Linked DNA regions of Homo sapiens: all the other regions are linked to region 2. Evidence: fine-mapped expression QTL. A gene starts in region 2. Each other region holds a variant in brackets. All regions are shown on one strand. Distances are from middle to middle. Region 1 overlaps SYT9 (synaptotagmin 9). Region 2 holds the start of SYT9-AS1 (SYT9 antisense RNA 1). Region 3 overlaps SYT9 (synaptotagmin 9). Region 4 has its middle 6.5 kb from the start of OLFML1. Region 5 overlaps OLFML1 (olfactomedin like 1). Region 6 overlaps SYT9 (synaptotagmin 9).

The links.
Region 1: its variant is fine-mapped to the expression of SYT9-AS1 in whole blood (TOPMed, PIP 0.97).
Region 3: its variant is fine-mapped to the expression of SYT9-AS1 in whole blood (TOPMed, PIP above 0.99).
Region 4: its variant is fine-mapped to the expression of SYT9-AS1 in whole blood (TOPMed, PIP 0.98).
Region 5: its variant is fine-mapped to the expression of SYT9-AS1 in whole blood (TOPMed, PIP above 0.99).
Region 6: its variant is fine-mapped to the expression of SYT9-AS1 in whole blood (INTERVAL, PIP 0.99).

The regions. Positions count from the first base shown.
Region 1 is chr11:7,428,853-7,432,942 of GRCh38, forward strand. All of the region lies in intron 6 of SYT9 (synaptotagmin 9), which reads left to right. Among named protein-coding and RNA genes, the nearest start is that of SYT9-AS1, 35 kb to the right of the region's middle. The variant T/C (reference allele first, on the strand shown) is at 2,399.
Region 2 is chr11:7,463,420-7,467,509 of GRCh38, forward strand. SYT9-AS1 (SYT9 antisense RNA 1) reads right to left here and starts at 2,416. Exons shown (of 5, transcript NR_103855.1): 1 at 2,334-2,416. SYT9 (synaptotagmin 9) reads left to right here. Exons shown (of 7, transcript NM_175733.4): 7 at 3,373-4,090. The coding sequence ends at 3,381.
Region 3 is chr11:7,453,970-7,458,059 of GRCh38, forward strand. The region is part of intron 6 of SYT9 (synaptotagmin 9); the gene reads left to right. SYT9-AS1 (SYT9 antisense RNA 1) reads right to left here. Exons shown (of 5, transcript NR_103855.1): 3 at 3,827-3,990. Among named protein-coding and RNA genes, the nearest start is that of SYT9-AS1, 9.8 kb to the right of the region's middle. The variant A/C (reference allele first, on the strand shown) is at 2,004.
Region 4 is chr11:7,476,994-7,481,083 of GRCh38, forward strand. No RefSeq gene overlaps it. Among named protein-coding and RNA genes, the nearest start is that of OLFML1, 6.5 kb to the right of the region's middle. The variant C/T (reference allele first, on the strand shown) is at 2,059.
Region 5 is chr11:7,486,124-7,490,213 of GRCh38, forward strand. It overlaps OLFML1 (olfactomedin like 1), which reads left to right. Exons shown (of 3, transcript NM_198474.4): 2 at 2,004-2,292. Among named protein-coding and RNA genes, the nearest start is that of OLFML1, 2.7 kb to the left of the region's middle. The variant G/C (reference allele first, on the strand shown) is at 1,938.
Region 6 is chr11:7,440,394-7,444,483 of GRCh38, forward strand. All of the region lies in intron 6 of SYT9 (synaptotagmin 9), which reads left to right. SYT9-AS1 (SYT9 antisense RNA 1) reads right to left here. Exons shown (of 5, transcript NR_103855.1): 5 at 1-1,326. Among named protein-coding and RNA genes, the nearest start is that of SYT9-AS1, 23 kb to the right of the region's middle. RefSeq lists a silencer at 2,185-2,479 and an enhancer at 2,448-2,497. The variant C/CA (reference allele first, on the strand shown) is at 2,460.

The sequences.
Region 1 (4,090 bases), 35 kb before region 2:
AGGATTTTGAGCCTGGGATTCAAAGAGTCTTGGGGTGTAAACTGTTGATGCTTTCTAAGGAATAGAAATTGGGAAGTCCCATGAGTGAATACTTAAGTTGTAGTAATGAAGACAATAGAATAGTACAGCCAAATTAATGGAGGGTCTGTGTTGGAATAGGTGGTTTTAGTACTCACACTCCAGCAACAAAAAGCAGAAGGGAACCTCACAAAAGATCCTGCCCAGTCCTGTGGGCACCCATACACCGACAGAGTGAATATTTATTAGTTGCCTCTCCAGCATCAAGCCCCTTTTCTGATGGCCCTGATTTCTGATTAATGATTCTAGGGAGCCTGGCTCCATCCTTGTCTCTGGTGATGGTACATATGACAGTTCCAGGCTAAACCTGTCAAGCTAACCATAAGGATTACCACTGCATACGCTGATTCAGTCCAAGAGTATTATAAAACATTTGGTGTGAATGTTTGGACAAAGATGCTCTCTCTTTCTTGTTGGATATAAACAAAGCACTATATACCCTGGGAGCAGCTGTGGCTTCTTTGGATCTCTATAGAAGATCCAGGTTTAGGGAGAAACCAAGCCCATAGATACAAAGAAACCAGATTCTCAGTCATGTGGTTGAGCTCCTAAATCAAACCTCTCCCAAACATAGTGTTACCTCTGGCCTTTATAAGTATGTAAACGTATATATTCCCTTGGTTGTGTAAGCAATATTAAGCAGAATTTATTTTATTTGAAATGAAAAACATCTTATTTAGGATACAGGTGAACACTCACACTGCCCCAGTTGGTGTTCTTTGGGAGTGAAGAGAACCATTCCCAAAGCTGTCGCGAGATCAGCTCTTCTGCCTGGCTCACTGCGGTATGTCCAATACCTAACAAAGTGTGTGGCCCACAGTAGACTCCCATTAAAGTTTTCCTAATGGAGCAAATTATTAATGTTCAGATAATTAACTTGTGTGTTAAAACAAGCATGGTGAAAAGAGGGACACTTGACTCTCAGTGACATACAAATATTATATAAGGTTAAGAAAAAAACTATTTTCCTTTTGCATTTATATGTTATTCAAATTCTACATGGAGTCTCAGGGCCTGTGGGAAGCTCTTCATTTTATGATCACTCCCTTGAGCTGATAAAGGCACAGTTCCTCAGGAGTGAAGATCAGTCACATAGCTGTCCTTTCCCTTCAATGTCTTATGTGATGTACTGCAATTCATTTATTTACAGCAAAAATGAAGATCTACACTCTTTTAACACAATAATTTTAGCAATTCTAGTATTATTTTTATTTCTACGTTATCTATTTTTATGTAAAACTCAAATGTATATTTAAAGTCTTCAGTCATTGGTGGTAGAATTACATATTTTTTTCGCACCTTAGATAAAATTCAGGATGTAAAATGTGATGATATTGATAATCAAAATGCTTGAAATAAAGAAAAGAGGGTTTCTATAAAGCAAGGGGAACTTTACCATTCATTGAGAAATTATATAATGCAATTGTAACTTTTAGGTATATGGTACACTATGATGAGTTATACTCAAATTGTCAGAAACAGAAGCAGTTATGAATAAGGCAGGAAAACAATAGGGTGATTTTTTCCTTCATAGCTTAGGATCTGAATGGTGTGTGCTTAGATGCTTTACATATTAATAGTAAGTGTTCATATTAGTAAAGTTTACTAAAGAGCGGTCATAAAACCAATTAATATGGTTTAAATATTTGTCCCTGCCCAAACCTCATGTTGAATTGTAATCCCCAATGTTGGAGGTGGGGCCTGATGGGAGGTGCTTGGGTCATATCCATCATGGCTTGGTGCGGTCCTCTTGATAGTGAGTTCTTGCAAGATCTGGTCATTTAAAAGTGTGTGGCACCTTCCACCCTGCCTTGCTTCTGCTCTGCCAAGTGAGATGCTGGCTCCTCCTTTGCCTTCTGCCATGAGTAAAAACTTCCTGAGGCCCCACCAGAAACCAAGCAGATGTCAGTACCATGCTTTTGGTACAGCCTGAAGAACTATAAGCCAATTAAACCTCCTTTCTTTATAAATTGCCCAGTCCCAGGTATTTCTTTATAGCAATGCAAGAAAAGCAGTACCAGAAGTGAAGTGGGGTATTGCAATAAAGATACTTGAAAATGTGGGAGCAGCTTTGGAATTGGGTAATGGACAAAGGTTGGAAGAGTTTGGAGGGCTTACAAGAAGACAGAAAGATGAGAGAAAGTTTGGAACTCTCTTAGGGACTGGTTAAATGGTTGTGACCAATATGCTGATAGTAATATGGACAGTGAAGTCCAGACTGATGAGACCTCAGATGGAAATGAGGCTCTTATTGGGAACAAGAGCAAAGGTCATCTTTGTTATGCTTTAGCAAAGAACTCGGTTGTATTGTGTCCATACC[T/C]TAGGGATTTGTGGGAGTTTGCACATGAGAGTGATGATCTAGAGTATCTGGCAGAAGAAATTTCTAAGCAGCAAAGCATTCCAGATGTGGCCTGGCTGCTTCTGACAGCCTAAGAAATGACTTAAAGTTGGAACTTATATTTAAACAAGAAGCAGAGTGTAAAAGTTTGGAAAATTTGCAGCCTACCGTGTGGCAGTAAAAGAAAAAGCTTTTCAAGACAGAAATTCAAGCAAGCTGTGGAGGAACCACTTGCTAGAGATATTGGCATAACTAAAAGGGAGCCAGGTGCTAACATCCAAGACAATGGGAAAAAGACCTCAAAGGCATTTCGGAGACCTTGGCAGCAGCCCCTCTCATTACAGGTTCAGAGGCCTAAGAGTGATGAATGGTTTTGTGGGCCAGGACCAGGGCCCCACGGCCCTGTGCAGCCTCAGGACACTGCTCCCCACATCCCTACTGCTCCAGCTCTAGCCATGGCTCAAAGGGGCCCAGGTCCACCTCCAGCTGCTACTTAAGAGAATGCAAGCCATAAGCTTGGGCAGCTTCCATGTGGCATTAAGCCTGCAGGTGCTTAACTGTGGGTACCAGAGTGAAGGTTTAGCAGCTTCTGCCTGGATTTCAGAGGGTGTATGAGAAAGCCTGAGTGCCCAGGAAGAAGCCTGCTGCAGGGGTTGAGCCCTCCCAGAGAACCTCTACTAGGGCAGTGCTAAGGGAAAATGTGGGATTGGAGGTCCCACACAGAGTCCCCACAGGGGCAGTGTCTAAGGGAACTATGAGAAGGGGGCCACCAGCCCCCAGACCTCAGAATGGTAGATCCACTGACAGCTTGCACCCTGTGCCTGGAAAAGCCACAGGTATTCAACCCTAGCTCACGAGAGCATCCCTGGGGGCCAACCCTGCAAAACCATAGGGGCAGAGCTGCCCAAGGCCTTGGGGGCCCACCCTTTGCACCAGTGTGTCCTGGATATGGGACATAGAGTCAAGGATTATTTTGGAGCTTTAAGATTTAACAACAATCGGGCATGGTGGCTCACGCCTGTAATCCCAGCACTTTGGGAGGCCAAGGCAGGTGGATCAGTTGAGGTCAGGAGTTCGAGACCAGCCTGGACAACATGGTGAAACCCTGTCTCTACTAAAAATACAAAAATTAGCTGGGCATGGTGGCAGGTGCCTTCAATCCCAGCTACTCGGGAGGCTGAGGCAGGAGAATAGCTTGAACGTGGGAGGCAGAGGCTGCAGTGAGCTGAGATTGTGCCATTGCACTCCACCCTGGGCAACAAGAGTGAGACTCCATCTCAAAAAAAAAAAAAAAAAAAAAAAAAAAAAAAAAAAATATATATACATATATATATATATATATATATATATATATATATATATATATATATTTAATGACTGCCCTGCAGGGTTTAAAACTTGCATGGAGCCTCTAGCCCCTTTCTTTTGGTCAATTTCTCCCTTTTGGAGTGGGAATGTTTATCCAATGCTTGTACCTCTATTGTATCTTAGAAGTAAATGACTTGATTTTTTATATTACAGGCTCATGGGTAGAAGGCACTTACCTTGTCTCAGATGAGACTTTGGACTTTGAACTTCTGAATTAATGCTGGAATGACCTAAGACTTTGGGGGATTATTGGGAACACATGGTTGTATTTTGCAATATGGGAAGAACATGAGATTTGGGAGGGGC
Region 2 (4,090 bases):
AGGTGTAATTTGCTTATTTTGTTTGATTTGGTTGAGATTTTCTAGTCTTCCCCCAACAGAAGCCAGACAAAAGGGGGCTGAACAACAACAGCAAAATTTACTCATGTCTTCTCCTGAGACAACTTTTTCAGAACTGACTTGTATGCTTGACTTTCCCTAGAATAAGTTTGTTTTCAAGAGGCTTTTCTTGCAATATTGCTGGTAGCAATGACCCTATCACGACACCAGATGTATTGAAACTCCTTAATCCTGTCATCTTGTGGGCTTGGTCCCAGCTCACAAGCATTCTAGGACCTTAGTGGCGCTGTCCAGAAGAGGAAAAGATTCAGAGCCCAGAAAACTCACCCAAGTGAAGGGCTGCACCTTAAGAAGGGGGAGACCAGTAGGCTGCACCGCCGTATTTCCAGAGGCTGACCTTGATTCTGGCTAATTACACACACAAGGAAATTCACCAAATGAGCAAAACCCAGCTATGGAGTTCAGGTGGGAGCTGTGCTATGACTTGGCCATTGGCAACAATGCCAATGCTAGTGGTATCCCTGGGTATGGGGACTGGTAAAAAAAATTGGCTAAGGTTGCAGCCTAGCCCTCTAAGCAGGCTTTAGACAGGCCATAAGAAATCAGGTACAGAGGTGGTCCCTAAGGCTGGGTACTTTGGGAGAGCTAAACCCAAAGCATTCTGAAGGAACTGCTTAAATGAAGAGGTAAAATTAGGTCATAATAGGGAAAAATGAGGTTGTGCACAGAACTGTGGGGGCAAACAAGATACATATGCATGTCACTAGCTGGGGGAATCCAGAGAAATGGGATAAGCAGCTAGGAAACCATAAGTGGGATGTGGCACCTGCTGTATGCTACTAGTTTGGACTAGGGTTCTTAAAGGAAGCTCATCTGGCTAGATTTAGGGAGTCTAGAAAGCCAAGGCAGATAAAGTACTTTTAATACATCAGAAATGTAGACTGGACCTACAGAGGGAATTGACATAATTGCTAAAGCTTGGACTTTGAAATTGGAAGTCTTGGGTTTAAATCTCAGCTCTGACACTTAGTCACAGTGTGGCCTTGTGCAAATTAGTGTCTCTACAACGCTGCATCCTCCATTAAAGAACCCCACGGGGTCTTTTAAGAACTTGTAAAGTCCATATCCCAGTGCCTGGCATACAATAAGTACCCAAAAATGAAGGAATATGGGCTGATACCATCACAACTAATTCCAGACCACATTCATTGGTGACACTGAGCCTGTTAACAATTTGCTTTCTCTGATGGGAAGGAACTCAGGAATTGGCAAACTGATATGGGTATGGGTTTCACAGTTGAAAGAGCGGCTAGGGAACCACGGGCCTGATGTAGATGGTGGCTTAGAAAGTAGAGCTATTCGGGGCCAGGCGCGGTGGCTCACGCCTGTAATCCCAGTACTTTGGGAGGCCGAGGCGGGCGGATCACGAGGTCAGGAGATCAAGACCATCATGGCTAACACAGTGAAACCCCGTCTCTACTAAAAATACAAAAAAAAAAAATTAGCCGGGCGTGGTGGCGGGCGCCTGTAGTCCCAGCTACTCAGGAGGCTGAGGCAGGAGAATGGCATGAACCCGGGAGGTGGAGCTTGCAGTGAGTCGAGATTGCGCCACTGCACTCCAGCCTGGGGACAGAGCAAGACTCCATCTCAAAAAAAACGAAAGTAGAGCTATTTGGATGGTGCTCCAGGGTAGCAGCTGATCTGGCAAACTGATATTTGAACCACAATATTAAGACAAATATCATTCAGTCTTTCTTCCTAGACACAGAAACAAAGACCCCTTTCCCAGAGATGTGTGTGTGTGCCCACACACATGCACACACTTCAAAGCCACGGGTCACAATCAAACGTGGTTTCCCTTTGCAGTGAACACACTGGCTTTTAATACTTTCCTTAAGTAAGTTATAGCCTCACATGTGAACTTTTGATCTCTGAAATGAAGTCCATAAATTTCATTGTCAGAATGGTTGCTACTCTTTTATAGTTTACGTGTAAATTTTGTTATTCCTATATCCATAGAAGTCACTTCAGTTTTTTCTCTCTATGGCCACAGTATTACTACATTTAATCTGTGCTGGAAGGTGCCCTGAGTTTAAATTAAGTTGAATGCTGGGCTGAGTGTGAAACACAAGAGATACTGCTAGTCTAAGTCTGGGGCTTCCTTAAGAGAGCCCCTCCTTCACATCTCGGAAACAAGGAATGATGTTGCACCACTCAGACCTCATCTTTCCATCCCAGCTGTATTAGTCCATTTTCACGCTGCTGACAAAGACATATCCGAGAGTGGGAAGAAAAAGAGGTTTAACTGGACTTACAGTTCCACATGGCTGGGGAGGCCTCAGAATCATGGCAGGAGGCAAAAGGCACTTCTTACATGGCAGCAGCAAGAGAAAATGAGGAAGAAGCAAAAGCAGAAACCCCTGATAAACCCATCAGATCTCGTGAGACTTATTCACTATCACAAGAACAGCACGGGGAAGACCGGCCCCCATGATTCAATTACCTCCCCTGCCGGGTCCCTTCCCACAACACGTGGGAAGTCTGGGAGGTACAACTCAAGTTGAGATTTGGGTGGGGGCACAACTAAATCATATCACCAGCCTTACCTCCGACCACTTCATTCCTCACACTACAGTCCAGTCACACCAAATTGTGATGATTCCTTCAATGCACCATGCCCTTTATTGCATTCTGCCTTTGCACAGTCTCTTTCCTCTACCCCAAGTGACCCTTCTTCTTTCCAGAGGGATTCCTCTTCAGCCTAAATGGCTTAGCTCAAGACTCATCAATCAGAATGCTCTCTATAGACCTCCTCAATCCCTTTGAAGTTACTTTCTCCCTTCCCATTGCCCCTGCAGTATTCTATGCAGCTTCTCACATCATAATATCTCCATCTGTGAGCCCTTTGAAAGCAGGGGGAGTGTCCTACTTATGGGCTTAGTATCCCCAGCATCTATTACCATGCCTGGCACTTGTTTGGTGCACATTAAAAATGTATGAATGGGCCAGGCACAGTGACTCACGCCTGTAATCCCACCACTTTGGGAGGCCGAGGCAGGCAGATCACAAGGTCAGGAGTTCGAGCCCAGCCTGGCCAACATGGTGACACCCTGTCTCTACTAAAAATACAAAAATTAGCCAGGTGTGGCGGCGGGCACCTGTAATCCCAGCTACTTGGGAGGCTGAGGCAGGAGAATTGCTTGAACCCAGGAGGCGGAGGTTGCAGTGAGCCAAGATCGCGCCACTGCACTCCAGCCTGGGTGACAGAGCAAGACTCTGTCTCAAAAAAAAAAAAAAAAGAAAAAAAATGTATGAATGAAAGCCAAATTATTTTTTTGTTTTTTCTTCCTGCAGAAACGATGACCATGGGTAAGAGGACTGCTTGTGCCAAGGACAAAATAGGACAACCATCTCACAAAGATCTTAAGTAACTTTTTCCATCCAGCAACATCCAGACGATTTCAGTGACCAAATGCTCAGCTGTAACCACAGCACTAACTGGCCTTCTTTCCAGATTGGGTTTGGTGAACCTGAATGGTCCAGCCACCTTCTGCAGGTGGCCCAAGGTGATGTGCTGCAGGGAAGCATGTCTCTCATGCCAAGAACCAAGATCGGACTATGAACAAAAACAAATGATAGATATAGTGACAGTACCAAGAGTACCAGGACTCAATGTTTCATATGAAGCCCTTGGTGATGAGGACATAGCATCTGCCCTGGAAATCGTTATTCCAACATAATATTATTTTCTAGAATGCCCTGGAAGGACAGAATATTTAAAAATATATCCAGGTGCTAAATAGGCAGCAGATCTCAATTCACACATGACTACCTTTGAGCTAATGACTGTCTCCAGAAAATAACTGTGCCCCAAGAAGTGCTCCAGATTTGCAAGGAATAGCCCCAAGAGAATACCAAGACAAGCAGGCTGTTCCCTGGAAAAAATCTAATGCAAGGAGGGCTAGTTCACAGCAAATTCACTGCCTCCTCCCATGCACGTGGTAGAGAGTACCAGTATCAACATGGCCCTGTTTTCTGCTAAAACCAGATTTTGAGGAATCAGAGACCCCCA
Region 3 (4,090 bases), 9.4 kb before region 2:
GCACCCTCTGTGGTCTCCTCTTGTTTGACAGGCCAGAGGCTCCCAGCTGGCCAAGAGGGCTCAGCTTCCCCACAGGGCAGGATACCAATCCCTAAGTCCAGGTGAGTCGCCCCTTTTCTGACATTGCTGCTCCCCAGTCACTTTTCTTTCCTTTCCTTGCTACCTACCTGATTTCCAGCCCTTGATGAGAGTCCAAGCCTCCAGCTCCCAGAATCACCCTTCATTTTAATACTCAAATACCCTGAGTCCCCACCCTTTCTCTCTAGCCCTTAGTTGATGTCTTCCTCCCATTTGTCTCTGCAGTGGCCTGAGGAATGGTCTTTTTTGCATCTCATGATTCCAGATGATGCTTACCATTTCCGCTCTCTGCTGCACTCCAGGCTTCTCTACAGCCATCTTTAGAGGCCTTCAGCTGCTTCTCCCAGCCACCATCTTCTCCCTGCCCTATCCCCACATCCTATCCCAAGCACGGACACAGTCCCTTTCCCCATTCCCCCAAAGCATGCAAATGCCAGACTATAGCATTTAATGAAGATTTCCTAAGGGCTGGGGATAACACGAGTGAAGACAATGCGAGTAACTGAAATTAAAAATTCTATAGCCAGGGAAAGAAACATCCATCTAATATCATAATTGTCTCTGCCAATAGGAAACTGCCTACGGGGAACACATTTTACATTGTTATGCAGAATAACACAGCCTCTCATTCTGAGATTGGACCTGGGCATTACCTTTAATAACCTAAGGCCCCTGATACCTCCCCAAAGAGCTGTTTCCCCAGCACCCCAACACACTGTCTTGCAGGTGGTTTCTTCACTAGGGTGCCAGGATGAGGAGATGTGTGAAGCTAAAGTCAGCTCAAAGTCAGCTTTCTCTCCACTCACCAAGTGGTGAGTTTGCCTGGAGGAGGCTTCTGTTTCTAAGTCACACAAAGGCCCAATGCTAACAGCATGGCTGAGAGATACATGCCGTGGCCTACTATCAGCCACAGTGTATAGAGGACAGCAGATACACAGATGAGAGAAAACGAATTCAGCTAATAGGTTTTATTTGTTTTGACATTGTGAGTATCTTTGAGATGAAAAGCTAATAGTTGGAATAGTGCCAAAAATCTTAATATTATTAATAACATATCAATAAAAGCCTCTAAACCTTTAAGGATAAAAGAAAGTTTCTTATCTTGTATCCTCTTTTCAAACACATTTAAGGGCCTTTGTTTCTGTCTCTTTCACTGAGAAAAAAAAAGCAAGCTGCAAGACAATACATTTTCTAAAATTAGCACACATTTAATTGACTTTTCAAAATGAAGTTCTATTCAACCTATTAGATGTGTATATTCCATACAACATTCCAATGTTTAAGCTATTTTTTTTTTTTTTTTTGAGACAGATTCTTGCTCTGTCATCCAGGCTGGACTGCAGTGGCGCCATCTCGGCTCACTGCAGCCTCTGCCTCCTGGGCTCAAGCGATTCTCCTACCTCAGCCTCCCAAGTAGCTGGGACTACAGGCACCCGCCACCACGCCTGGTTAATTTTTGTATTTTTTTTTTTTGTAGAGATGGGGTTTTACCATGTTGCCCAGGCTGGTCCTGTACTCCTGGATCCAAGTGATCCACCCACCTCGGCCTCCCAAAGTTCTGGGATTTAGACATGAGCCATTGTCCCTGGCTCATTTAAGCTAATTCTGAGACTTTTTCCCAAATACAGAAAAACACATCTGTAAATCACCATTGGAGAAAGAAAGGAGAACGTGAAGGTCCTGGGAAAGGGGTGAAGGCCCCTGCTTGAGGACTTCATGGGGTTGGTACTTAGTCCCTCATGGTATCACAATAGGCTATGCATTCTACAGCTGCTCTTTGTGACCTGTGTAAATTCTGGGCAAAAATGGCCTTTCCCTGGGTCATGTCTGCTAAAGCAAGTATCACCATCCAGTCAGATGGGGCTGATCCCAGCAGGTGCCCAAGAAGGAAGTCACCCACTGTCTAAAAGTCCTACATAATCCTC[A/C]GGGTTCATTTTAGGTGCCACCTCCTCCATGAAGTTTCTAGTGAGCAATGCCCCATTTGGAATGAAGTACTCCCTTAATAGTTTGATTGTATTTAGATTGTATTTGATTATACATTTACCACTTACCACCTCTCATTTTTATTTTGTAGTTAGTTGGATACATCTGTCTTCTCTCCTGATGTGAACTCTTTAGGTCTGGGGCATAGGGTCTGTCAGTACCCACTAAATTGACTATTTTTAGTTGATTTGGACTTACTGCAGACCTTTTACTAAACATGGCAATTGAGCTTTTGCTCTCTGATCATGGAGAAGTTTCCAGTATGCAATAGTCAGGAGGCAGGAGGGGGCTGGTCAGTGTGTAAGTACTCAAGGGAGGATTAAAACAAGGTACAGTCTGCACACAGCTCCTCACAGTGGGTGGAGGCACCCAGAGGAGAGAGGCAAGCTGCCTGCACATGCAGCAGGCTGGTTACACCTCCCTCCAGTGTCTTCCCCATGTCAGGCAAATGAGAGCTAGAGGACCTTGGGATCTTGCTCTTTAGCCAGAAAATGGCCACCCTCCATAAGTGGTAATGGTGATATCCTGAAATCAAGTTCACAGGTGAACAGATCTAATGTCCATTTTATTGTTCACTAAAGTTTAGGGTCAGTTGAGAGTGGGTGATAAATATATGACTCTTCATTCATTATCTCTTTGGTATTTATATTTTTGACTTATTTTTTCAGAACTCCATTGGTCCCTATTCAGGAAATGCTAAATTTAAACAGCCCCGTCCTGTTTTGGGACCAGCCACCTAGAGTTCTCAAGTGCTAAAGGCAACGACCTCCTTCCCATCCTCACTCACCAGTAATTCCACAGGGCCAGGCTCAGTGAGATCTGTCAAGGCAAGAGGGGTGCTTCAGCTGATCCCATACTATCACTCAATTCTGGTTTTCTGACTCTCTTATTTGTTTTCAATCCAACCTCTACACTCCTTCAAGTACTAAAGTACAAATCTGAGCATGTAACTCTCCCACTTAAAAATCCTTCAATAACTGCCCTTCATTCTGAACAAGATCAAGATCGAGTTCCCTACCTTGGCATTCAAGGTCCTCTGCGACCCTGCCTCCATCTCCTCCTTATACTTTATGTTGGGGCCACACCTAATGGCTGGTGGTTCACACAGTGCTTTCTATTCACCCCCATGCCCTTGCTTCTGCTTTAACTTTTTCTTGTGCTGTCCTTTCAACCCCTCTTTTCCTGCCTAGATCCAGCCTGTCTTTTTAGCATCTAATCAGTTGTCAGCTTCTTCAGGAAGCATTCTGAAGATCCTGTGGTATGAGCTAAATGCTTCTCGTCTGTGCTATCCTCTCCTAGCACCCTGTGCCTGCCCCTGACATAGCATTTGGTGCCACTTGATATTATCTGTGTGTGTGTCATCCCCAGCACCTCCCACTGCTCCTTGAGAATGGGCCTAAGTGTTATTCATCATTGTATAACAAGCACCTGGCAAAATGCCTGGCACAAAGTCAGCATTGAATAAGTTCTTGTTGGACAGAATTTCAATTTCTTCTATCTTACAACTTGTAAAATGATTTTTACAAGTTTTACTTACTGATTTCTTAGATAAATTCTCCATGTCAATTTTTCTTCAAATCTACAGGCATAGTGGTTCTATTAATGCACCAAAGCAACTGAGAGCTAGCTCTGAATGCCAAAGAGCCAGGCAACACCCATGAGAATGAAGACAGTGGCAGTGAAGGTCCCAGTCATCATCTCAGATGGATTTGCAGTGTCATGAGGGCTCAAACAGTTCTCATAAAGGTCTTTATAAGAGACTTACCTTAGTTTAAAAGGCAGGTTGGGAAACCCATGACCATTTCCTCCAGAAAGCACAGAATTCCTGCAAGCCTGGGGTCACTATTTTGGCTGCCATGCTGTCAGCTTATCCCAGCAATCTTTCAAGGTGCTTCACTGTATGGCATCATTTGCTGTATTGTAAGAATTCTGTTCAAGTAAGAATCAATCAAGCTTCCTTTGAAACAATCACTTTGCATAAGGAAATGGGAGTTTCAAGGATGTATTTATTTGTTCAACAAATATTGAT
Region 4 (4,090 bases), 14 kb after region 2:
ATTGAAGAAGAAGGAAGAAGAAGAAGGAGGGAAGAGGAGGAGGAGGAGGAAGGAGAAGGAGAAGAGGAAGAAGAGATTGGAGGAGGAGGAAGGAGGAGGAGGAAGAGGGAATGGGGGAAAAGGTTGCATTTTGGGGAACTTCTCACTTATGTCAAATCATAGGAAGCAGAATAGACTAGAACCCCCTCTCTCTCCACCATGTGAGAATATAGTCAGAAGTCTGCCATCTGAAAGCCAGGACAAAGGTCCTCACCAAATCTGCCAGCACCTTCATCTTGGTCTTCCCAGCCTCCAGAACAGTCAGAAATAAACATTTGTTGTTTAAGCCACCCAGTCTATGGTATTTCGTTATAGTAGTCTGGACAGACTACGTTGGTGACACAGCAAACTGTGTGTGGAGATAGAAGGTAACTAAATGTATATCTGACAAGAATTGGAGATATCACAAGTATTTACTTATGACTGTCATTTTTGACCGTCAATGTAAACAATGTTATCAGCCCCTAGTTTTACGGGGCCTTCTAGAGGGCTCTCTCCTGACTCCCTAACACAATTAATTGAAGATTTTTAAATGATTCCCCAAATATATATCATTATCCACTAGAAAAATGTTCACTTGCTTCAACATCCTCTTGCCCAAAACTTCTCAGTCAGAAAACTGTTCTTAATATCGAATTTAAACTCCTTCTTCAATACATCTATTCCTTTTATTCCAACCTGAAGCAGAATTTAGTCATGAAATTCCACAGATTGCTCCCTATAACTCCACTCTCACATCTTTCTCTTTTACATAACCCAAAGATTTGGAAAGACAAGAGTAGACAATAAGCAAATGAATATATCTGGGAGAACATTATAGTACTTAAGAAAGAACACTGCTTCATGCCCACTCAGCACCTCTCACTCATGTGACCTCACAACTGGATTCTCTTACACTATTTTCTGAGTGTGTGTGTGTTCTAGTAATTGTAAGTTCCTGAAAGGCAGAGCCATGTCTTCTAATTTTCATAGCACTTTGGCTCAAGAAGTCAATAAAGACATGTAGCCATAAGTTGGCACACTTATTAAAACCATTCTTATTCTTTACTTTCAATAAAACCAGACTCCTAAGGACCCTAGCTCTGATTTTCATACAGACTGACAGATACTAACTCTGAAATTTGTAACAATTAATTTGGTATTTGAGGCCTGCCCTTCTTCATTCAGTGCCCTCTCCCTCACCCCAAGTGGTCTGCATTTGGGAGGTGTGATGGTCCTTACCAAGGTCTCCCTGGACAGTCACCATGGAGTCTAGAGGGTTTAGGTTCATCTTTTACTGTCTCTGTGTGATGGGGGAAGGTGGAAAGAAGATGATTTCCTCTTAAATGGTGGAAGGGCCTCTCAGATTTCATGTGGATTATAATATGATTTTGATAGTCGGGAAAAAAAAACTCTTTACGGACTAAGAAGAAACAAGATGATCCTCATACCCTGAAAAGTCCTTTCCAACCTTCTCTGTCAAACTTCTGTTCTTCCCTTGGATGCAAATGCATGACAGAGCTTGCAGTGAGCTGCAGAAAGTGTTGGGAAAAACCCAGAGATGAAGAGAATAGAGACTTCCAAGAGAGCGTGTAGTCAAACATCCACCCCTGCCTATCCCAGTGGGTCCCACAGGTCTCTACTGGAGTCATGAGGTGGTGTGTCCCCTACTCATTGCTAAGACCCATGAACTTGGAGGAGACAGTCCAGGGGCCATGATCTGGAAGGGGCTGAAGTGAAGCAGAATAACAAACCCACATCCAGTTCTAGATCCTGCTACACAGGAGAGCCAAGGCAAGTCATGGAAACAGGTTATGATCCCAGGAGAGAGACAGAGAGCAGCTGAGTGAGCAAAATAGGGGGCAGCCTCAAATGATTTCTGAAGCATAAGTCTAAACCTAATGCCAAACAGGGCTTTTTCATCTGCTCAGAGTCTTAGCATGAGAATTAGCTTCCTTTATTTACAAAGATTGGACAGAGACAGGGAAAGGGAGACAGAAAATATAACAACAGACACAGGAACTCAAAATCCCTAGTTTT[C/T]CTTAGCCAGTAAGTACCAAGGCAGACATTTCTATATACTTAATAATCTCTGAAAGGTCCCTATACATGATACAATAGCTGATATCCATATGGTCATCTTACGACATTAAGAAATGACTTTGAAAAAGTAAGTTTGAAACACGCTTGGGAAGATTTCCATTAAAATATTTAAAGTTAAAAAATGTTTTGGCATCACTTTTTGACCTTTTGGCTAAAGTCAAGTATAAAAAATGTTTTGGCATTTTCCCAAGGGAAAAGGAATCTCATGTTTTCTGAAAATTTATTTATGAGGACTGTCTCATAGAGAAATGAGATGACACATCCACAGTATCGCATGGTTTGTAAATATAACATTACCAAGAGCCTTGTCTTCACAGGTATGTGGGATAGGCTGAACTAGAGAAATCACCTCAAATCTCTCCAGTTTGCTAAGGGCTAGAGACAATTGAGCCCCTCAAAAATATATGATTTGGGGTCTGTACTAAAATCTATTAAGTGGGCCCCAATAATAGGGCTGAGGAACTTACGTGCATCCATGCAAACTTCCAGGTGTCTTTCAAAGAGGCCATCAGGTAATACAACCTGGTTGCAAGGTGGGGGAGGGATGAATTATATAAAGGGCCAGTTCTGGAGGCAGACATAAGCCCAGGCCAAGAAGAAAAGTACCGTTGGTTCAGGTGTTAGTCTAGGCAAGGGCGATCAAACAGGGCTGCAAAACTGAGTAGGAGATACATTGCAAAAAAAGCAGGCGGCCGAGATTGGAACTGGAAGAGGCAATGCTCAATGTTCAATGCTTACAGGGAGCCTCGCTGGTCAGAGCTACTTTTTTTGTTTGTTTTGTTTTTTTGTTTTTGTTGAGATAGGGTCTCACTCTTTCTCCCAGGCTGGAGTGCAGTGGTGCGAACACAGTCCACTGTAGCTTCTACCTCCCCAGCTCAAGCAATCCTCCTATCTCAGCTTCCCAAAGTAGCTGGGACCACAGGCTCATGCCACCATGCCCAGCTAATTTTGTGATTTTTCATAGTGATGGGGTCTCACTTTGTTGCTCAGGATGATATCAAACTCCTGGGCTCAATCAATCCTCCTGCCTCGGCCTCAGAGCAACCTTTAAAGGGCTGTCTGTGTGTGTCTCCCTCCATAAGGAATGTAACACATACTCCCTCCTCCTTTGCCTATTGATTACTCACGTTATAGATCTTAGCTTAGATGTAGTTGCAAAGACTTCCCTGAGCCTGAGAAATCTACATGTTCTTGGGAAGGAATTGGCAGACAATCAAGGCTCCTAAGCAGGGAAATTACACAATGAGGTTTGCATACTGGCTCCCTCACTCTGGCTACAATGCTGACACTAGACTTGAAGGGGTCAGAAGGGAGCCTGTTGTAAACAACACAGGATCTGGCCATCAACCTGACTCCCTCTCTTGCCTCTCATTCAATCACTAACCAAGCTCTGGCAATTCTACATTCTAAATATTTCTCAGAGGCAACCAGTTAGCTCTCTCTCCACTGTCACAACTCTAGTTCTGGCCCTCATCATTCTCTTTTCAGATTATTCTCACAGCCTCCTAATCCATCTCCCACCTTGAATTTAGTCTTGCCCTCCAATCCGTCCTTCACCTGGCCTCAAGAGAGACCTCTGTAAACACACATCTATTTATGTGTTATTCACTTGAAACTCTAATTGCTGTCTCACTGTTCTTACCATACACCTAAAATGTTTGGCATGTCCTACAAACTTGGCAAGGTCTGGCTTCTGCCTAACCTACTGAAGTAGACACTGATGCATCTCCCAAATTTACTCTTTAGGAGGACATTCATTTCCCAGCTGTGCAAACTATTAACAACTCACAGCTGAGTCCCTTTCCAGGAATTGCCCTCATCCAAAGAAAAGTGCCTCACTCAAGATTATCTACTCTCCCTCCTTGGGCACAGCTTTCATCCAATGACTGCTTGATGCGGGAGTGCCAAGGTCTGGTTTCCTTGCCTCAATTTGGGACATATCCGATGGGCCCTCCTATCTCCAGAGCCCCTC
Region 5 (4,090 bases), 23 kb after region 2:
AAGTTACACTTTAAAATGCTCATAGTCTGGCAGTTTAGAGCCGAACTCCAGAGTCCAGTGTGCTACTTCCAGACCTTAAGCACAGTTGCACTTTGTGCTCTGATTTGGCAGTTTGTCTCATCTGTAAAATGGGGATAATAGTAGAATTTATGTTGTAAGGCTATCCTGAAGATTTAATCCATAGCTAAAATACTGCCTGGCATAATGGTATGTATCTAAAATGTTATTATTCACCATAGTTCATTTTTTAAAATATGAAACTTAAAAATGTTGGTTACTTTTTCTTCATGTTTTAGTGTTTCAGGCTGATAATGGATTTCAGCTTTTCGTTTTGTCTTTTATGATAAACCATTAGGTCACTGTAAAAAGTCATGATATCAATGTACTGAGAAGTCTTAGTTTCTTTTGCTGAACTGGATTTAGACTTAGAAGTGAGCAGATTTCAGCCAAGTTAAACAGAAAGAATGCATTTGGGCTGCCACCTCATTAAAATGTGCAAAACCCAACATTTTGGCAGCCTGGACAGGCTCCCAGGGACAAATGTAACCCTCCACCCTAGCCTTTGCCACACCCTGGCATTGATTATTCATACTTAATGGCTTGCTTTTGTACAAGCTAAATTGATAAATTATTTATCTTCTTTCAAAGACCCTCTTATTGCTAATAATTATTTTATACATTTTCCTGAAAAATCTTCATGTCCAAATTATATGTTCTTCTAGTTATAGTCAGGGTAAAGTAATTCCACATAGCAGGCCGAATGCATTTCCTAAGGGCGTCCAGCCAACAGGCTGGGGCCTGGAGGCAGTGGATGAAGTGTTCCCAGACGAGCGGCCTCTTGCGCTTCTTCACTTGCTCCCTCCTGAGCCTCACCTCCTTAGAAGTGCCAGAATGATGCTCAGTCAGGATCCCTCTGCATTTAGCACCGACTTGCCTTGGGAGTAAAGCCAGCCAAATCCCTGCAAATTGTCTTTCACTACCTTAAGAACTTGTCAAGGGTATGAAGTACAGACTGATCCTTTTATAGCTATGAATGTGGATTTGAAAAAGACAAGGATATGATCTGTATAGATCTTCCCACCCCAGTCCTGACCTGAGGTGAAGCCAAGTCGCAGGTGGCAGTCACTGTTGGCCAGCGCAGACACTTAACAATACAGTGATAGCATTCCCAGCCTGAGAAGCCAGTGTCGGAGGGGTAGGAAAAAAGAGGGTAGGGATTTAGGGAATTATTTTGGGTCTCTCTTTCTGTCTTTCTCCCTTCAAAATAAACAGCCTTACGTATTGTTGTTTGGAGCATACATTTTTACATTTGTGGATAGAATTTTGATAAACCATGCCAAATGAGCTTTAAGTAGACATTCTCTTTGACCAAGCAATCCCATTTCCATTCATTTATTCTTTTGTTCAGCAAATATTTATTGAATAGTATTATGTGCTTGGCCCTGTGCCAAGTGCTAGGGACGGATATTCTGGAAATCTACCTTAAAATAATCTGATGAAGATGTAAATACAAAGGTTTTTTTTTCCCTTAATAATCTGATGAAGATGTAAATAAAAAGTTTTTTTCTCAGCATTGTTTGAATGACAAAAAATTAAAAACTATGTAAATGTACCTCAAAAAGAGTCTAACAGAATAAATAATGGGATATCAATTAAATGGAATGCTCTCATTAAAGTTATGGTATAGGTATACTTTAATTAGTATCAAAGTATGTTCACAATATATCTGCAAGTGAAAAAGATGATACAAAACATATAGTAAAATCACATTTTAAAAATATATATTTACATATGTATGACTAAATGCTTGGGAAAACTTTTAAAAACTGATATACTCAAGTATCAATACTACCTTTGAATTTAGGAATTATGGGAGATTTCAATTTTTCCCCTATTTGATGATGTGTAATTTTCTAATCCTTTTCTATAAATGATAG[G/C]TATTTATATTATTTGGGTAATTTAAATAACAAGCAATAATTTGCAAATTTATTTTCTGACTGAAGCAAGGGCTGGAAAAATGTACCCAAGCAACGAGGGCATACATTCAAGAATTCCAAGAGTTCTCAAAAAATATATCTGTCATGCTGGGAAGATGTCAGACCTACACAAGTGAGTACAAGAGTGCAGTGGGTAACTTGGCACTGAGAGTTGAACGTGCCCAACGGGAGATTGACTACATACAATACCTTCGAGAGGCTGACGAGTGCATCGAATCAGAGGACAAGACACTGGCAGAAATGTTGCTCCAAGAAGCTGAAGAAGAGAAAAAGATCCGGACTCTGCTGAATGCAAGTAAGAAAACTGCATCTTTTCCTAGCCCTTCTAGGGACTATTATGCTCAGAAACACACAGACTCAGAGCAGTCAGGGAGCATCATAGAGTAATGAGAGTAAGAATTGGAGGTGTGCTTTTGTGTGCATTGCTGAGAGAGAAAGCTATACAGAGAACAGGTGTCCAAAGAGAAATCCATTCTCGCAAAGCCATTCTTTCTTTCACACACAGTGCCTAAAGCCTCCATAGATGGTGAAGGCTATAGTGCCAAAAGTCAGCCCAAAGAGACTACCTCCTGATAAATCTTGGTTTGGTGGAGATGTGTGGTCCCAGATTTTTTCAGGGAAAGTAGCAGTTTGGTGGATTCTACATCCAGTACCCAGGCTGTAGATAGCATCTGCAAATGTACCAAGAAACAGTCTTAAATTGGAAATGGCAACAGCCAACCCTCAGGGATGGGAACTGCAGTGAATCACTATTGTGTGTGCTGTCTGAGATGGTGATATGCATGGGATGTGGTCTAATCTTGTGATCCATCAGAATCACTTCCAAGCCATTAAGAATAATGTGTAGCAGCTCAAATTATAATAAACAGTATCAGGCAATAAACACACAAATGACAAAGAAAAATTTTCTGTGCCCGAGTCTATTTCATTAAAACAATGAGGGAGACAAATCTCCCACTTCAGGGTTTGTATTCTGAGATGTTTTCATTGCAAATAGGAAGACTTTATTTACATGCTAATTACGTCTGTTCCAATTCAAGAACCTCCATCAGGGAAATGACATATAAGCTGAGTGCCATCATTGTGCTAAAAGTTTCACATACCTTCTCAATGTAATCCTTCTAAGAACTTCATGGTCACTATAAGGAAAAGGGTCTTCCTAAATGAGGTGACACTTGGTCTCAGTTTTGAACAAAGAAGTTAGAAACGAATGAGTAGAGGGTACTTCAAGTCAGGGCACAATATACCAAAGGCATGAGGGTACTGTAGCACCTTGACATGTAGACCCGCAAATATGGCTGAGTGAAAGCTTTTTAGAGAGGTGACAGTAGGGAAACTAGGTTGAAGAGCTCAGCAGGACCCAGTTAATGAGAGACCTTGCATGCTAGATGAAGGAAGTTGAAGCTCACTGGAGAAACTATAGAGAACCATTGAGCAATTTTAAACAAGGGCATGATACGAAGGAAGAGGCTAAGACTAGAGAGAGGAGACCAGTCAGGGAATGCTGCAATGATTTGGGCAACAAGTAATAGTGTTGGCATTAAGTGTCATGGGACAGAGAACAGGTGGATTTGAGAGCCATTGAGAATTGGAATCCACATGGCTTTCTGACTGCTAATTAAAACTAAATGATGAGTGAGAGAGATGAGTCCAGGATGTTTCCCAGGTTTTGGGCTTAGGTCATCGAATGGTTGGTATGAAATATGCTGAGATGGAAAACTCAAAAGGAGTTTGGGAGCACTTATTACTCTATAATTTTTTTCAGACCATTTATAATTTTGAAACCATTTAGTTCATTTATTGGCTCATAGGTTATTTCCTACCTCCCTATCTGTAATGTCAGCTCTATGAGAGCTTGGAACCCCAGTTTCATGTTCAATGCTGTGTCTCCAGTGCCTAGAATGGGGTCTATTCAATAAATAGTTTTCAGTGAGTAATTAAACAATTAAAACAAATAAATGAGTAGATGTAGGGATTGTCAACACAGGCAGAGGGGTTAGTTAGGCTTTGGTGGGGGGGGGGGCGGGGAACCAAAAAACATCTTATCCCTGAGTCAGAAGAAAGAGAGGAGGGTGCCCTGCCTATAATATGAA
Region 6 (4,090 bases), 23 kb before region 2:
ATGCTGTGTTTAGAAGCTCAGTAAGATCACAGTTAGTGACTTTTCCCAGAGGGGGTATAAGAAGTTTCATGGAGACCCAAAAGGTCTGATGGCAAGATACCTTCCCAATGTTGAGTAAGGCGCCATAGTCTGCCAAAACTCTTCAAAGCCACTGCTTCTCATGGACATAAACGTTCCACCAGAAGTGAACATGGTGGTATTTTTTGAGTGGAACAATGAAAGATGTGAGAATACAGGTGGTATTTTCATTGCTTCTTCCTACTGCCCTTTGGAACTCTGGAAGACTGAAGAATATCTAAAGATGATCAGTAGTGGACTTACAAGAATAGGTTGATATTTAGAATGAGGTTCTGAAACACAGCTTAAGATACCAGAATAAATCATTCTAGCCATGAGTGCAGAGAATCTTACAAAGACATGGGGGACTATGTTGCTTAGCGACTGATCAGCTGATCTCATCAAGAGGATTTAAAAACTGATACCAGGAGGAAGAGTAAGACAACACAATAAAATAGACAACCCACAAGACCAGTTGCTATGAATGACATCCAGTGGGATGTGGAAAAAAAGGGTTCCAGGACAGGAGGTTTCCAGTGATTCACAGGAGATAAGATTGAATCCTAGATGTAAGTGATGGCCATGGCCTTGGGTGTCCTAATGCATCCTGCAGAGAGAACAAACAGAATAACCCAGGACAATGATCACAGCCTTGTAGATATAACTGGCACCCAAACATGTCAACAGACCACTTAGAAGCAGACAGATTAATGTGCTATACATGCCTGAAGAGCTGTGTACCTAACGTTGAAAGCTCATTGATACACATATTGTGGGCATTAGCAGAAATGAGCCTGCCAGGGAAATATGACAGGTGGAGAGGTGAGACTCCTAAAACAAATCAAAGCACTAGTACAGAGATAAAAATCCAGTGGTGAGGGAGAAACCCACTGAGGAGATGTTTCCTGGAAGTCTTCTTTGGTTAAAGACAAAGTGAAAACTTCTCCAGTTGCTTTGCTACAAGTATTAGAATACTTTTGATGTAATGAACAGAAATCCTGACACAAACTAGATTGAACAAAGAAACTGTAGCATCTGGACAAAGGGTCTAGAGATAGGATTGTAGATTCCATGGTTAAGGATGGGGGGTTCCGGGATTGTAGATTCTGTGGTTAATGATGGTATCAGGAACACCAGTTCTTCCCAGGCTATTGGGCCATCCTTCCTTCCTTTCTGTTCATCTTCAGGTTGGTCGCAAGATGGATGCAGGTCTAGGCATTGCATCCAGACATGAAAGTAGCCACAGGAAAACGCACTTCTTGTAGCTCTCTGTTAAGAGCAAGGAAAAAATTATTCAAGTGCCCAGCAAACTGGCTCCTTACACATCATGGCCAGAAGTATGCCAATTTTTGAAGCAGTCACTGGCAAAAGGAATGGGACTGTGTGGGCCCAACAGGTTCAGCCCTGGAGATGGATCCCTTCTTCTGGGACACCAAGAAAAACACCATCCCCTTCTCCCCTGGCAATACCCAGCCAACCTTCCAGCTATGACTCTCCCCCACAGGCACCCTGTTTCTTCTCATGACAACTCTGCACTCCATTATCCACCTCCTGGGAGCAAACCATTTTGTAGCCTATTCCAAAAAGCTCAAGCCAGCACAGACACCACAGGGCAGCAAACGAAATCTGAATCTCAAAGCTTGCCAGACCAGCAGCGCCCACTGAGAAACTCTCCAGATAAGAGATGATCCCAGGAACCCCACCGCCTCCTGCCATGTCTCTGCACATGCCATCAACGCTCTGCTCTCAGTGAAAATGGCTGAGGGGAGGAGCTTTTCCTCTACAGACCCAACGCTGCCATTTCCCACCCCTGTGGTGGGACTCGAAGAGGGGCTGGAGAACACGTCTCCACACACATACAGCTGTGGCCTGCTTTTGGCTCTCTCCTCCCACTCTTCTGCAGCGCAAACCAGGGTGGAGGATGGTGTCAGACCCGTCTTTCGGAACACTTGTCATTTCAAGAACCAGAGAGGCAAAGCCCTTCAGGCATGTTTGGAGTCCCAGAGAGCTCAGCACAGGACTCGTGCTGCCAACACTGTGACTCTAGACTATCTTGCTGGGAATCGGGATTTCAGCTCCTCTTTCCACACACCTTCACCCCCAGCACTGGGCACCCACTTCTGCAGCTCCCCACTCAAATTGGTCCCCCTCCTTTATGACACTGGGCTTCTCTGGATTCCTGTCAGCCGTTTTCTCCAGTCCTGGGGCTCTCAATATCTCCAAATACTCACATGGGTAATGGGTTCCTTGACCCAATGACAAGCATCTGTCTCTCAAAGAGCAGTAGGCCTTTCCTAGGGCCTCTGCCATCAGCTCTGCTGCCCTTTGCTGCCCTCCCCTGGCCATTGACATCACTGCAGGTAACTCTTCAGGACTCTGATGGGTTCATTGATACATCCATT[C/CA]AAAAAAAAAGTATTTAGGGGCCCTGTGTACCACGCGATGTCCAGACACTGAGGATTCAGTGATAAAAACACATGGCGCCTGCCTTCCAGGAGTACACAGTCTAGTGAGGAAAATGAGAGAGAGGGAGAAAAGCAGAGAGAGAGAGAGATAATGAATGAATGAGAATGAGAATGAAAGAAGGAATGAGAATGAGAGAGAGGACTTTTTGAATGGGAATGAGTGGATTCTGGTGTGCCCTTGTGGAAGTCTAGATTTGCTCATTGTTCTGCAGACCCGACTGCCTAACATGTTCACCTGAAAAGGAATCCCCTGGCCTCCCCTTTGGAAGTGGAGTTGGAGAATTTATTTTAAACCGAATATTTCTGAGCAAGTGCAAAGCACCCTACCTGGCACTGAGGTATAATGGGGAAATGCTGGTCCCATCCCCCACAGAATTTACAATCTGGCTGAGGAAATAGACATAAGAAAATAATTAGATTGTTTAATAACAGTTATGGTGTTACCTGGTACTGTATTCTGTCTTAGTCATACCTAGCAAGAGCTCCACACAGCAAGGATAGGGCATGGGGTCCATGTTTTAGGGGGTAGAAGGAGTGAACCACAGAGAGCACAGCCCGTGCACATGGTAGGCACCTCAGGAAGTGCTGAATGCATGAAAGAGGCTGCGCAGCAGACAAGGCTCCTGGGAGCCAAGGCCAGTGTCTCCAGCCAGCTCAGCTGAAATCAGCAGCTCATGTGCTCCGTTCTTCACCTTCAGCATGCCCACTTCATCCTGAAACTCTCTTCTACCCACCACCTCATCTCCAGATGCAGATCCTAATGTCCCAGACAGGACTGTTGGCAGGTTCCAAGTCAAGTGAAGGATAATTCAAGAGCCACAGTCCAATAGTGCAGGAGCCATATCTGCTCTATTTGCCATTGTATACCCAATCCTTCACATAGTACCTGGCACATAGGAGGTACTCCATAATTCTGTGACGGTTGTTGAATGAATGCATGGATTTTGCATAACTATTCAGGCAAGAGCTTAGCTTCTATAGAGAATTTGGTCATGATTGGATTCATTTGATCAGTGGAAGCAGCCATTCCAGTTTACTATAGAAGTAACATTCCAGTTACTATAGAAGTAGATTTAGAACCTAATTTGGCCTATTGGCTACAAAAAGGGTACAGACTCTGAGTTGTAGTGAGACTGCCAGTCTACCTGCAGGTCGATGAGGGCTCCTCCATCCTCCCTGGGCTGAGATTTAATAGTGCCTCTTTTTGCTCAGCCTGCTCTCTAATCCTCAGGGTGAGAGATCAGTATGAACTGACAGGTCTGAGAAATCTTCCTAGGGGAGGAAGAAGGGTTTCCAGCTGCAAGGAGAGAGCAGCGTGCAGTGACAGTGAGGCACCAGGATGTAGAACAATGCTGCCAGAACATATTCCCTGAGGTTTGGGAATGAACTTCTTCAAGGGCTGTGCTCCCTTTTTGATGGGTCCTAGTGGGCCTCTGTGCTGGTCGTGACCGACTTTTCTTCAATGATCCAGTGGAGGCTGCAATGTATTTTGCTTAAAACTACAGCTGGTTTATAATTTTGGCCTCAGACAGTAATTACAGCTGCTGGGGCTCCTTGGAGAGATAATTACG